3 separate regions of the Homo sapiens genome follow, and all the other regions are linked to region 2. The links come from fine-mapping of genetic effects on gene expression. A gene starts in region 2. Each other region holds a variant in brackets. All regions are shown on one strand. Distances are between the middles of the regions.

The links. PIP is the estimated chance that this variant, and not a neighbour inherited with it, causes the effect.
Region 1: its variant is the best candidate, but not a certain one, in a credible set for the expression of RAG1 in thyroid (GTEx, PIP 0.83).
Region 3: its variant is the best candidate, but not a certain one, in a credible set for the expression of RAG1 in ileum (GTEx, PIP 0.83).

The regions. Positions count from the first base shown.
Region 1 is chr11:36,710,235-36,714,480 of GRCh38, reverse strand. LOC107984326 (a long non-coding RNA gene) reads right to left here. Exons shown (of 4, transcript XR_001748187.1): 3 at 3,674-3,773. It overlaps LOC105376631 (a long non-coding RNA gene), which reads left to right and starts at 3,491. Exons shown (of 3, transcript XR_931199.3): 1 at 3,491-3,542; 2 at 3,689-3,792. The variant C/T (reference allele first, on the strand shown) is at 1,756.
Region 2 is chr11:36,565,722-36,569,967 of GRCh38, reverse strand. RAG1 (recombination activating 1) reads right to left here and starts at 1,961. Exons shown (of 2, transcript NM_000448.3): 1 at 1,846-1,961.
Region 3 is chr11:36,529,847-36,534,092 of GRCh38, reverse strand. It overlaps a transcript of RAG1 not described here. Among named protein-coding and RNA genes, the nearest start is that of TRAF6, 22 kb to the right of the region's middle. The variant G/A (reference allele first, on the strand shown) is at 2,509.

The DNA.
Region 1 (4,246 bases), 140 kb before region 2:
GACTGGGATTCATGTTTGGATAAAGGGTGAGGGGATAGCAGATAAAGAGCAAGAGCTTCCTGGTTTTTATAGCTGAATGGAGGAAGTCCTATTCCTTGAGATAAAAACACCAGAAAGAACCAGATCTCGTGGGGAAGGAAGGGAAGAATGAGTTTCATTTTGGACACTTAATGCTTGAATTATATGACAAAAACAGCAAGGATAGGAAATAGACAGTTGGACATGTGGATCTAGAGTTCGAAGAAGTGGCTTAATCTATACTACTAATTCCATTTTTTTATCGAAGAATAAAAATGGTAGATTGATGGGATGTGTCACTTTTGCACCCATTAAAGATGATGCCCAGAAGTAACATAAATAGAGCAAAGAGGACTTCTCCAGAATCTAGACTGTATAGGTCACAGCTTTCTCCTCACAGAACTTTGGACTGCCCATCCCCTCCAGAAAAGACTGCAGTCAGCATGTATTTTGGGAACACTACGGTCTGTGGTCTTGGTCTTGTTCACACTACTAAAAGACATCTGCTTTGGCCATACTTGCCAACCCTTTATTCTGCTTTTTAGGCCGGAATAGTCTTAAAATTTCAGCACTTCCTGACTTTTGAGGCCATCTGCTAGCCACATCCTCAATCCACAGCCACATGAACCCTGAGCCCAGAAGGTATAATTAGCCTAGGGCCTGGGATCACACAGCCCAGTGTCCACAGGGGCCATGCTTAAACTGAGCTACTACCTAGCTCCATCCTGCCATTGTCATGCAGAAATACCCAGTATTGCTGGAGTTTATAAAAGAAACTGAAAATGTGGAAGGGTAGGGGTAGGGGGCAAAAAAAAAAAAAATGAAATATCTCTACTCTTAAATGTTTAGTTCAAATCTTTTTAAAAGACCAGCTGGGCCAAACAAAACTATATATTGGGTACAATGTACACTGCTCAGGTGACAGATGCACCAAAATTTCAAATCATCACTAAATAACTGATCCATGTAACCAAAAACCGCCTGTTCCCCAAAAACTATTGAAATAATTTTTTTTTTTTTTAGACGGAGTCTCGCTGTCTCCCAGGCTGAAATGCAGTGGCATGATCTCGGCTCACTGCAAGCTCCACCTCCCAGGTTCACGCCATTCTCCTGCCTCAGCCTCCCAAGTAGCTGGGACTACAGGTGCCCGCCACCATGCCCAGCTAATTTTTTGTATTTTTAGTAGAGACAGGGTTTCACCATGTTAGTCAGGATGGTCTCAATCTCCTGACCTTGTGATCCGCCTGCCTCAGCCTCCCAAAGCACTGGGGATTACAGGCGTGAGCCACCGCGCCCGGCCAAAAATTTTTAAAAACCTCTCACAGAGCCCGCTTGGACCCAGGGCCATCAGTGATTGACTTTTGGTCCCACCAATGCACGTGCACAACATTCACATTCATATTAATTCATTAATTCTCCTTAACTGATGCTCCTTCCTCAGAATGCATCCCAACACAATTCTCCAGGGAGATAATAATCCACATATTCAGAGCTGCACATGAGTTGAAACTTATTTGCCATGTCTATTCTCCTTTGCAGGAACATGTGAACACCACATGTTCCAAATAAAATCCTCCTTTCCTCCTTTCAAAAAAACCAAAACTGCCTTGGGGCACACACACAAATGACAGAATCCTTTCGGTGGCTGCTTCTATTGGCACATATTGTGTTACCAGTCTATAAGCTATTCCTATTTCCTTTGCACCTTGTCTCTGCTCAGCGACCTCTTAAGTGCCA[C/T]CGTAGTTCAGTTAAATCAACATCTTTTTCTATTCACTCTTGACCTTCACTTCTCTCAACTTTTTTTGAAATGTCAACAGCATTTTCCTATACCTTGTCCTGATTAAAAGTGAGAGAAACCTGGATGCTTTTCTCTGCCTAATTCTCTAATGTGAGGATAACTGATGGAAGTGACTTTTTGTACACTGATCTCAGAACTCAAGGGTGGTAGGGAGGAATCTGCAAGTTCCTGTACTTCTTTCTGCAAAGTGACTCACTTTGTTTTCACCTGAGTTTAAATGAATTGAAGAAAGGGTTCCCATTCATTCCAATTAGTGAAAAAGCAATCATTTTCCCATGTAAAATTAAAGCTTTAGCAGGCACCTTTCCTTGCGAAGGCATGAAGCTGAACACTTTTAATTTAAGCCAAACAAGAGCATTAAGAAGATGTATTCCTTTAGAGCTATACTCCATCAGGGGCCTTGAATGCCAGTTATTGGCTTTTTAGCCAAAGTAAAAAATCTTTCTGCTATTGTTTTTATGGATCACTATTAAGAAAAGAATAGCAGTTAGTTGATTATCAAGTTTCCTTTGGTGCGGGCAGAGGGAGGAGGAATTATAGTCTCATGTCGTACATAGCAGTTGCATTCGTTTGCTTGGGCTGACCTAACAAAGTCCCACAGACTGGATAGCTTGAATAACAGAAGCTTATTTTCTCACAATGCTGGAGGCTAGAAGTCTGAGATTAAGGTGTGGGCTGGGTTGATTTCTTCCGAGGCCTCTGTCCTTGGCTTGTAGATGAGTATGTTCACAAGGTCTTCCTCCATGCATGCCTGTGTCCTAATCTCTTCTTATAAATTCAACAGTCATTGTAGATTAAGGCCCACCCTAATAACCTCACTTTAGTTACCCCTTTAAAGACCCTGGCCTTAGATACAGTAACATTCTGGGGCACTAGGAGTTAGGACTTCAACATATAATTATAAGAGGACACAATTCAACCCATCACAGGTGCCTTGAGCATAACTTACACTGGAGCACCATGTAAGTTTTAGTGAGAAGTGATGGAAACTAATTCATGCCAGTAAGAACGAAAAATGAGTAATAATAATAATGAATACAAGAAAGAAAGAAAATGCTCTAAGGCAGAAATGCAACCCTGCTTCAGAAAGGGACAGGAACTAAAAAAAACTCCTAAGCTACATTTCCTCTCACTGCTTCCTCTGCAAATAGGCTTATTCTCCCTCCACAGGTATGCTTTCTTTTTTTCCTCATTCCATAAGATAGAAAATGGTCCCCACTCTTTCGAGCTTGCATAGAACAGGCCCTGCCATTTATCCAGACAGACTGGAAAGACTTCAGTCCTGATTTCCAGGCAACAGAATCGGATTGCCCCAGCCTGGGTTAGGTGTTCACCCTGATCCAATCAGTTACAACTAGGTGGCACTGTGGCCACCTATTTTAAACATGGCTGCTTTGGGCTCATCTTTGTGAATTGGGATGATTCACTTGGAAAAGGAGATACAGATCTATGATCACTGGCCTGTAAGTAGGCTAGATGCTCTAAACTTGTCACTATGTGGGTAAAAATATTTTTTTTCTGCATGTCCCATTCTTTCTTGTTAGACTTCAGCACCTATTTCTTCTGCTAACTAGCTTAGCTAGATATTTCTCTTCTTGAAGCATAGACAATAGGTAACTATAGCAACTGGTTGTACAGGTAATTGCTATAAAACATTGCCCAGGGGTTAGAAAGCCATGGAGACACTGAACCCTACATTCGACTGAGGCATTAGTTCACAGCTAAGGTGAGTTTCTTGTCTCCAGAACAATCAATGTTTTACCTTTAAAAATAAAGAAAAGTGTGTGCACCACAATTCTGCCTGAAAGCTCGGGCATTGAAGTGGGCCCAGGAGGTGCAATTTCAAACAAGACTCACCTTTTCATCTTCCAGGTCCGTGACTTGGTTAGGTCTCAGTTGCCTCTAATCTTCTCCTTTGTCATCGTGGCTTCAGCTGTCCAGCATTTCCAGGGACAGGCTAATGAGGAAAGACACAGGTCAGTAACATCACCTTTAGATCTAATAAGACAGTATTCCCTCAAATGCAGTTAGCTCATCCTCAAAGGTCCAGCCAGCATCATAGGCATCCTGGAATCCTTCAGTTCCTGTTGATTTCCTCCTTGTCTATTCACTGTCACCTGGAATTCACAGACACAAGGAAAATATCCTTTCCTCTCATCCCCTATTTTAAACCAAACATAGCATTGGAGTGACTTACTTTAGAATGGCTAAGATAAAGAAACAGACATCATCCAGGGACTTATGGGCTCATGTCTTCCCTTGACAAAAGAGTTTGGGAGACAGCTCAGTGATTAAGCACATGGATCCAGGAGCGAGGCTACCTAGGCTGAAAGTCCAGCTCTGTCACTTTCTAGCTCTACCTTCAGCATGTGATTAACCTCTCTGTGCTTCTTCAGTTTTCTCAGAGTGGCTAAAATGATTAAATGAGAT
Region 2 (4,246 bases):
ATGTGCAATTTCTGTATGCATCAGTGACATGGAAAGATGCTCACATGAAAAAGCAGAGAATAGAATGACAATAGCAAGTATAGTAGGATTCCCTTTATGTAGATACGTTTGTATTTGTACATATATGAAATCACAGGAATTCTGAAAGGATACACACTAAAATCTTAACAGTGTTTAATTTCTGAAAAAAATAGAATTGGCATTGATAAGAGGGCCTTTTGCACTTTTTATTTTATTAATTTTTGTATCATTTGAATTATTCAAAACAAGCAAGTAACTATTTTTATTAATTTTGTGATACATTTATTTTGGATAAAACTGTTTTAAAGACTAGCTGTATATGTGCTCATAGTCACTTTTCCATATTTTCTTCTAAATTTCCCCCAGAAAAACTTAAGATCTGGCTAATTTCAAATATGACCACCACCCTTAGCTTTTCTTTCTTTTCGGATGAACATGGAGAAAGCAGGCTAAAATATGGACCTGTAGACAGCATGAAGTTAGGATTGTGAAAGAGTTATCTTGGATTCATATTTTGACACTCAGAAACCTTGCAAATGCTTGATCTCCTCTCTTCTAACAAAAGGTCTCAGCAGTAGACCAGCCTCGGGATCTCAAAGGCTGAGTGGTTGGTGCTGGCTCAGCCCTGTCCCCACCGGCCACTGCCATCTCGACATTGCCATCTGACATCAGAGCTACAGGCGTGCCTCCCTCCACACAGCACAGATTCATTTTGACAAACTAGTTTGGGGTGGCTTGGACAGTGCAGGAACAGTAGTTTCTGGTGAGTGATATCATTAGTTCAGGAGGCCAGGGTGCAGCAGCAGCAGCAGCCCCCCATTTCCATCCCAGCTGCCCACCCTATACCCACACACATACACCCCGTTACTTGGCCCACAATCTTCCCTCCTAACATCTTCAACTTAGTCTGTACACAATTTCCAAGTAATAACTGTGTGCTCAAGTGTGACCTCTCATTATCACACCTGTTCCACTTATTCATTCACTCTGCAAATACTATCGTCTGTTTTTTGCCAAACATCATGTATCAAAAATGTGACAAAATAAAAAGCCTTTTTATAAGTCTCAAGTATCCACAAAATAACACTACAATTCTTGCTCTTCCTTCAGACAACCTCTTGCATGAACCACTTCAGAAAGAGAAATATATCATCACAATCCCTGGCCAGGAATCCTGACTCAAGAACATAACCTCAAAGCAGGGTCTCTACCATGGCAATTCTCAAAATTAATACAAATCAGAATCATGAGCGAGTTTGTTTTTAAAAAGAAATGCAGATCATCAGGTCCCAAAGAGTCTGGCTGTTTGGGAAGGAATCCAGAAATTGCATTTTTAAACATTCAGTGATTCTAAAATGAGTGAATATTTTGAGAAACATTGGTCTCCTACTTAGGCCAATCTAGTTCAGGAAATGCCTGGCAATACTTGTTAATACCTGGGAAACCATACATTTCCTCCCACCCTATTATGTTCCTGATTATTTTTCTCACCTGAACTACCAGTATTCATTTCCAAGAGTCTCACACCTTACCTTCTGCTGATTTGTACACATTCATTCAAGAAGCACTCCTTAAACCTTTCCTCTGACAATAGCATTCATTTATAGTAATTCAGATATTTTGCATCTTTCTATGAACCTTCAGTGGCCCTAAACTTGGCCTCTTGTACCTTTTTTATTTTCATACATTAAAAAAAAATTGATGTAGCTTTGCTCATTCCATCCCCTCATCACCTGGAAGGAAAAAAAGCTCAAGCACTTCTAGTTAGAAACATAAAAATGTAATAAATATTTTGGCTCAAGGCATGAAAAGTATGAGTGTTACCTTGCTCAGCAGGCTGCCTGGCCAAAGTGTTGAGATGTCTGCAATTTGGTTGATATTACTCAATACCAAAGAGAAGGCAAAGTGTGTTCTCTGCTCTCTCCTTGCCCTCTTGTTTCTCAGAACATGCTGCTGAGCTGTTTATCAGCTTCCACTGTCCTTCCCAGCCTCCCCCACCATGGAGGGCTAACCACAAATGATGGCAGCCAATCATGGGCCAGGAGACCCCAGCTCCAGCTGCCACCTGGCTCTTTAGGAAGCTTAGCTCAGGGGGGCCTGAGTGTAGAACCATGTGCGAGAGTTTGCTGGGGCACTGGCTGCCAGTTCCCTCCCTGAGAATGTTTGGGTTGGAAATGGTCTTGTCAGTCAGTATAAGCCCCAGCTTTTGCCAGGGTTCTATATCTCTGTGCCTCAGTTCCACATCTGTAAAAAGGAAAGGCTAGTAGTATATACCTCAAAGAGTCAATAATGTTATACAATGACAGTTATTATAGGAAAATACTTGAAACGATGTCTGCCTCTTTGTAGATGTTCATCAGATATTAACAACACTATGGAATTTTTTTATTATTATCTTGAAATGTTATCCAAACAATCTCAGAACCTTTCAACCTGGTCAAATCTTGCTGAGGAAGGTTGATGCTCCTTGTAACTACTGTAAGTTTAAACATTACTCGAGTATGGACATCAACAGACCTGGATTTAAATCTTGACTCAGGCCTTTGATTCATTACTTAAACTTTAGGAACTTCAATCTCATCACCTGCAACCTAAGATTAATAATATTAGTCCCCATTATTGAGAGCAATGGGCTAGGCTTGTAAGTGTTTTATGTGTCATTTAATTTTCACAACAGTCATACGCATTTGATAATATTATGTCTAAAAAGAAGCAACAGAAGTTCAGAGCAATGGAGTGACTTGCCCATGGTCACACAGCCACTACTTAGTGAAGGTGGGGTGGAATTCCAAAGCTCATGTTCCTAATCACTCCATTATACCATGAAAGGAGAATAATGAAAGCCACTTTGTAGTAATAGTCTAAGGATAATTCAAGAATGAATAGGTGTATACACACCTCTGTCTCTGTTTCAAAACCCCTTTATAATTCTCAGACCAGCTTTATCCCCAAAGTCTTTCTGTGTTCAGCTAATAAGTGAGAGATTCCTTGCTTGTCTGATTCTCAGCAAAAACTGTCAAGGAGGCAGGTGCAAGGATTTCACTGTTCTGTGCTGCCCTCATTCGACGCTCCTCTTACATCTCCCACTCTTTCGCATTTGGACCTACTTAACCACACAACAGCCCTGGGGCCACAGCTGCTCACTAAAGACAAGGCAGAAGCCACTGCAGTAACACTGGGAGAGAGGAGAAACTGGTCTGTGGCTTCTAGGAGCTTCAGTGTGTTTTTCCCCAAGGAGATGCAGCCTTTACCTGAGGGTCATATTTGAGGCAACATGGCGAGAAAGGCAGGTGAGAGCTAAGAATTTCCTGAAGACAGTGTTCATGTTCAACAGGTGGCCCTGAGCCCTCCTTACACAATGAGGTCAAGTAGAGAGGAGTCATAACATGACTTACATGCAAGAGGGTGTCCTTCCCCCCCCATCCTCCTGCTCCTTAAAATCTTGCATCTCCAATGGACTTACAGGAAGAAAAAGAAAAGGCCAGATGTTCATGCTTCCCCTTGAAGGAAAGAGCAAAATAATAATATCCCACAGTATTAGAACAAAGCAGCAAGTTCAAGGATCAGGCTTCAGTTCTGTAGGTTCACTTGGAAGTTATGTAAAACTAAAGTGACAAAATGCACTGGTTTGTTTTGGACTTTCCTTGGTTTAGCACCGAGAGTCTACGGTGAACAGAGTTGGTTGGTTGCCCATAACCTCCAAAGCAGAGTTAGAAAATTTCTCTGAGGTCAATAATTTATAAATGGAATCCTTTTCAATTTTTCTTGGAAAAGTAAGCTGGTCAAATGGACTCATCAAAGAATGGTGAAGGTGTGAGGTTCAGACCAGATAAGGGAGGAGCTTTCTCTCTCTCTCTCTCTCTCTTCAAATCATATTTAACATAGATTTCTGTATTGCTCAATTTTTCATCAGTCATGTATACTTTTATAATTAGGAAAAATCACAATATTTACAAATAAAGTACTTAATGAATTTTAAATGAGACATAACAAAATATTGGGTGCCTATGAAGATACAGTTTTCTAATTGCTCTGTTTGATAAAAGTCTGGATTTGTATACATCACCAGTATTTCCATGTTTCTCCCAATTTCACCTCCCAATTTCTCCCATCCGTGTTGAAATCAAGTCACTTGTCTCCTATTGAGAAGTAAGACCTCCCTTGGATCACCTGGAAAAAACAAGTTAAATAATGGCCCATTGTCCCTCTGGACACTAACATTTTA
Region 3 (4,246 bases), 36 kb after region 2:
ACCTCCAAAAAGTCTTCAGGGATCAATATTTTTTTTAACCAATGAGTTTTTCAAAATTCTTAGGAAAAGCTAATTATAATGCTACATTCATTTGATTTAGGTTATTTAAAGAGCTAAAAATACCTTCAGGAATCAAGTGTAAGCCTTTACCAAAACCTGAAAAAAGTAATATTACTTTAAAAAGTGGAAATTTTATCTGGATGCTTGGATGGATATTAGGACATCTGTTAGTAACTAATAAATAATTAAATATAATTAATATCATACATACGATCACCTTAATCAAAAGTGAAGGATGCTTATCTCAATATCAATAATAATGATTACTATCGCAAATCAAACATCAGCCAGAATACTACTTAACAAGGAAAGAATAGAGGCATCCCCATTTAAAAAACAGAGGGAGATAAGGGAAACAAAACACTTTCACCATTATTCAACATTGTCTAAACATTTTAGCTGAGATCATGACATGAAACAGAACTAAAAAATAATCCATGAAAAGGAAGAGACAAAATTATCATTATTCTTCTTCCATTTGGTTGCCTATTTAGACATTTTATGAATAAACTGAAAAGTCTTTGAGTTCACAAAAGTTTAGTAAAGGGCATATAAAATTAATGCCCCTGAATGTTAAGTAGGTGCACTGTGCACTGCTTACCAATATGCCTCAGTTCAATTCGACAGAACACAGGCACACACCCGTTACATGAATTGGGTTTATTACTTACAGATGGGCAACAAGGGCAATATAAGCTGAGGATTCATTGTAAGCTGATCTCGCAAGGCTCAGGAAAGTTGCCCAGGGCAAATGGAATCTTATTTACGAGTACTCAACTAGCACAGCAGCTGAGGGACCCCAGAAAGTAGCACCCCCTCCTCGGGTTTTATACCATGGGGTCACATCACATGCTGGGCCTACGTGTTGAAGGACATCCTGTTTCTATGGGGAACCAGAACAGAACCGAGGTTGTTGTGGCTAGTTCCCTCTTATCTCAGGATGTTGCATTCCTAGCACATTCTGCAGCTACTCTTGAGAACTACACGTGAAAAAAAGGGAACAATTGGGCTGGTCCAACCTCCCAGAAAACTGTTCTGCAACTATAATAGCTTCTTGCATATGCAACAGAATATATACAGCAGTTTTACCCTATACATTTATACCTATGATAAAGTTTATACATTAGGCATAGTAAGATATTAACAATAAACTAATAATAAAATAGAACTATAACAATGTACTGTAATAAAAGTTAATGTAAATGTGCTGTCTGTCTCTCTCTCTCTCTCTCAAAATATCTTATTGTACTGTACCTACTTTTCTTCTTGAGATCTTTTAAACTCATAACACAGGTGGCTGGCTAAGTGACTGAAGGGCAGGCAGCATATACAGCAGCAAATAAGCTGAGCAAAGGGACCAGGTAAGATTTCATCACACTTCTCAGAACAGTGTGCAATTTAAAATTTATAAATTGTTTATTTCTGGAATTTTCTATTTAATATTTTTGGGCCACGGTTAATCATGGATAACTGAAACCACAGAAAGCAAAACCACAGATAAGGTGGATTTCTGTACTAGAGACAAATTTCTGGAAAGCACTGTCATAGATGAAGTTATTAAAATTATGCTATTGAATGAAATAGAAAAGTGTTCATAATATATTGCTAGATGGAAAGAGTATATCATATACTAATGTGGTACCATTTTTGTAAAATATAAATATAGATATTTAAAAATGATCAACATAAAATTAACACATATAATACTTCCCACAAAACACATAAAAATATTCCAGACAGACTGGAATGACAGAGATAAAATATTAACACATAAAATATTAACACATAGTATCTCTAGTTTAGAATATTAAAAATAACTTTCAGTTTTTTCTCCATATCTTTCTTTTTTTCCAATATTTCTAGTGATTTTCTATTCAAAATAATATATTGAAAGAAAATTCAAAAGGAGATATATTTGGGGAGTATATCTCAGTAATAAATGCAATAAAAACATGAAATATCTAGAAATAATCTTAAAAAGAAATATATATAACTGCCCTAGAAATCACATTACTTTCCTGAGAGATAAATGGAGAATTAAGAAATGAAAAGGTATTTTGTGGATAAAAATATATCAGCATTCCTTAATCTAAAACGCAACATCATGCTAAATGGAAAAAAAAATTAGAAGCATTCCATTAAAGTCAGAAGGAAGAAGGAAGACTTCCATTTGCATTGCAATAAAGTATAAAATATTTTGAAAGTTTCTAGCTCACGTCATTTGATAAGAAAAAAGGTTATTGAATGGCCACAGGAAGTTCTTTAAACAGAAAGGAAATGGCAAAGTATCTTGTACCATCAGAAAAAAACACATGGTAACTAAAATATCAGTAAATACAATAGACTTCCCTTCTCCTCTTGCGTTTTCTAAATTATGTTTGATGGCGAAAGCATCACCAAAATTATGTTTGATGGTGAAATGTAAAGGAGTTACGTTTTCTACATTAC[G/A]CTCAAATTAGTAAAATGATACCAGTAGACTGTATAGACTGTTTATATAAATCATATATATACATATATATAATGTAATGCCTAGAGCAAAAACGTTAAAAATCTATACAAAAAGACATACCACTATATAAAACATCAAAATGGAATTCTAACGAATGTTTAAGCAATTCACAGAAAAAAGAAAACAGAGAAATGAAACACAGAGATAAAACAACTAATAAAATAGCAGACTTAAGCCATAACATACCAATAATTACATTAAGAAAATGGCCTTAATATACCAATTACAAGACAGAGATTGACAAAGTGGATTAAAAAACATTCAACTATATGTTGTCCATATGAAACCCATTTCAAATATAATAATAAGGACAGGTTGAAAGTAAAATAATGGGAAATTTTTCATGTAAACATTAACCAAAAGAAAGCAAGAGTAAGTAGCTATATTAATAGCAGATAAAATAGATGCAAAGTAAAGAAAATTACCAAACACAAAGAGGGAGCTTATATAATGCAAAAAAAAACCCTTAATCTATCAAGATGATGCAACAATTCTAAATGTGTATGCACCAAACAAATGTGTATGCATCAAACAATGTGTTGAAAAATAAGTGAAACAAAAACTGAAAAAACTGAAAGGAGAAATAGACAAATCCACAGTTATGGTTGAAGACTTTAACACCCTTCTCTGAGAAGTTGATGTAATACCTAGACAGAAAATTGGCAAGGATATAAGAACTCAACAACACCATCAACAAGTAAGAGCTAAACAACATTTACAGAGCACTCCATCCAACAACAGCAGAATACACATTCTTTTGAAGGCCCTAAGGAAAATATATCAAGAAAAACCATAAAGAAACTCGACAAATTTCAAAGAATCAAAGCATATCAAGTGCGTTCTCTGACTAAAATGAAGTTAAACTAGAAATCAATAATAAAAAGTTAGAAAAAAATATCCAAACACTTTGAAAGTAAACAACATACTCCTAAGTAACCAGTGGGTCAAAGAAAAAATTTCAAAGAAATTTTAAAAATACATTAGACTGAATGAAAATGAGAATACAACTTATAACTCATAGGACACAACTAAAGCAGTGATAAGAGGGAAATCTGTAGCTCTAAATGCATATATTAGAAGAGAGAAAAAGTCTCAAATAAAAAATGTAAGCTCTTACTTCAAGAACCTACAGCTAGAAGAGAAAAATAAAGTCAAAGCAAGCAGAAGGAAAGAAGTAATAAAAAGAGGAGCAGAAATCAATGAAATTGAAAAGGCATACCTATATAGAAAATCAATAAAACAAAGACTCATTATTTGAAAATGTCAATAAAATGGACACAATTTGCAAAACTTCTTGCAAGATGAACAAAGGAAAAACAGAAGTAATAAGTTACCAATGTCAGGAATGAAACAGGGATATCAGTATAGACCCTGCAGATTTAAAAAGCAAAATAAGGGAATAAAAACAAACAACTCTGCACATATAAATTTAACAATTAAGACGAAAATGGACTAATTCCTCAAAAAACATAAACAGCCACCGTTAACCCAAAATGAAATAATTTAAGTAGTTGCATAGTTATTAAGGAAACTGAATTTGTAATTTTAAAGAACTTTAAGAAAGGTAATCTCCAGAACTAATGGTTTCACTGAAGAATTCAACCAAATAGTTAATAAGGAATCGACATCAATTGTACACAATCTTTTCCGGAAAATAAGAGAAAAAAAAAACCATTC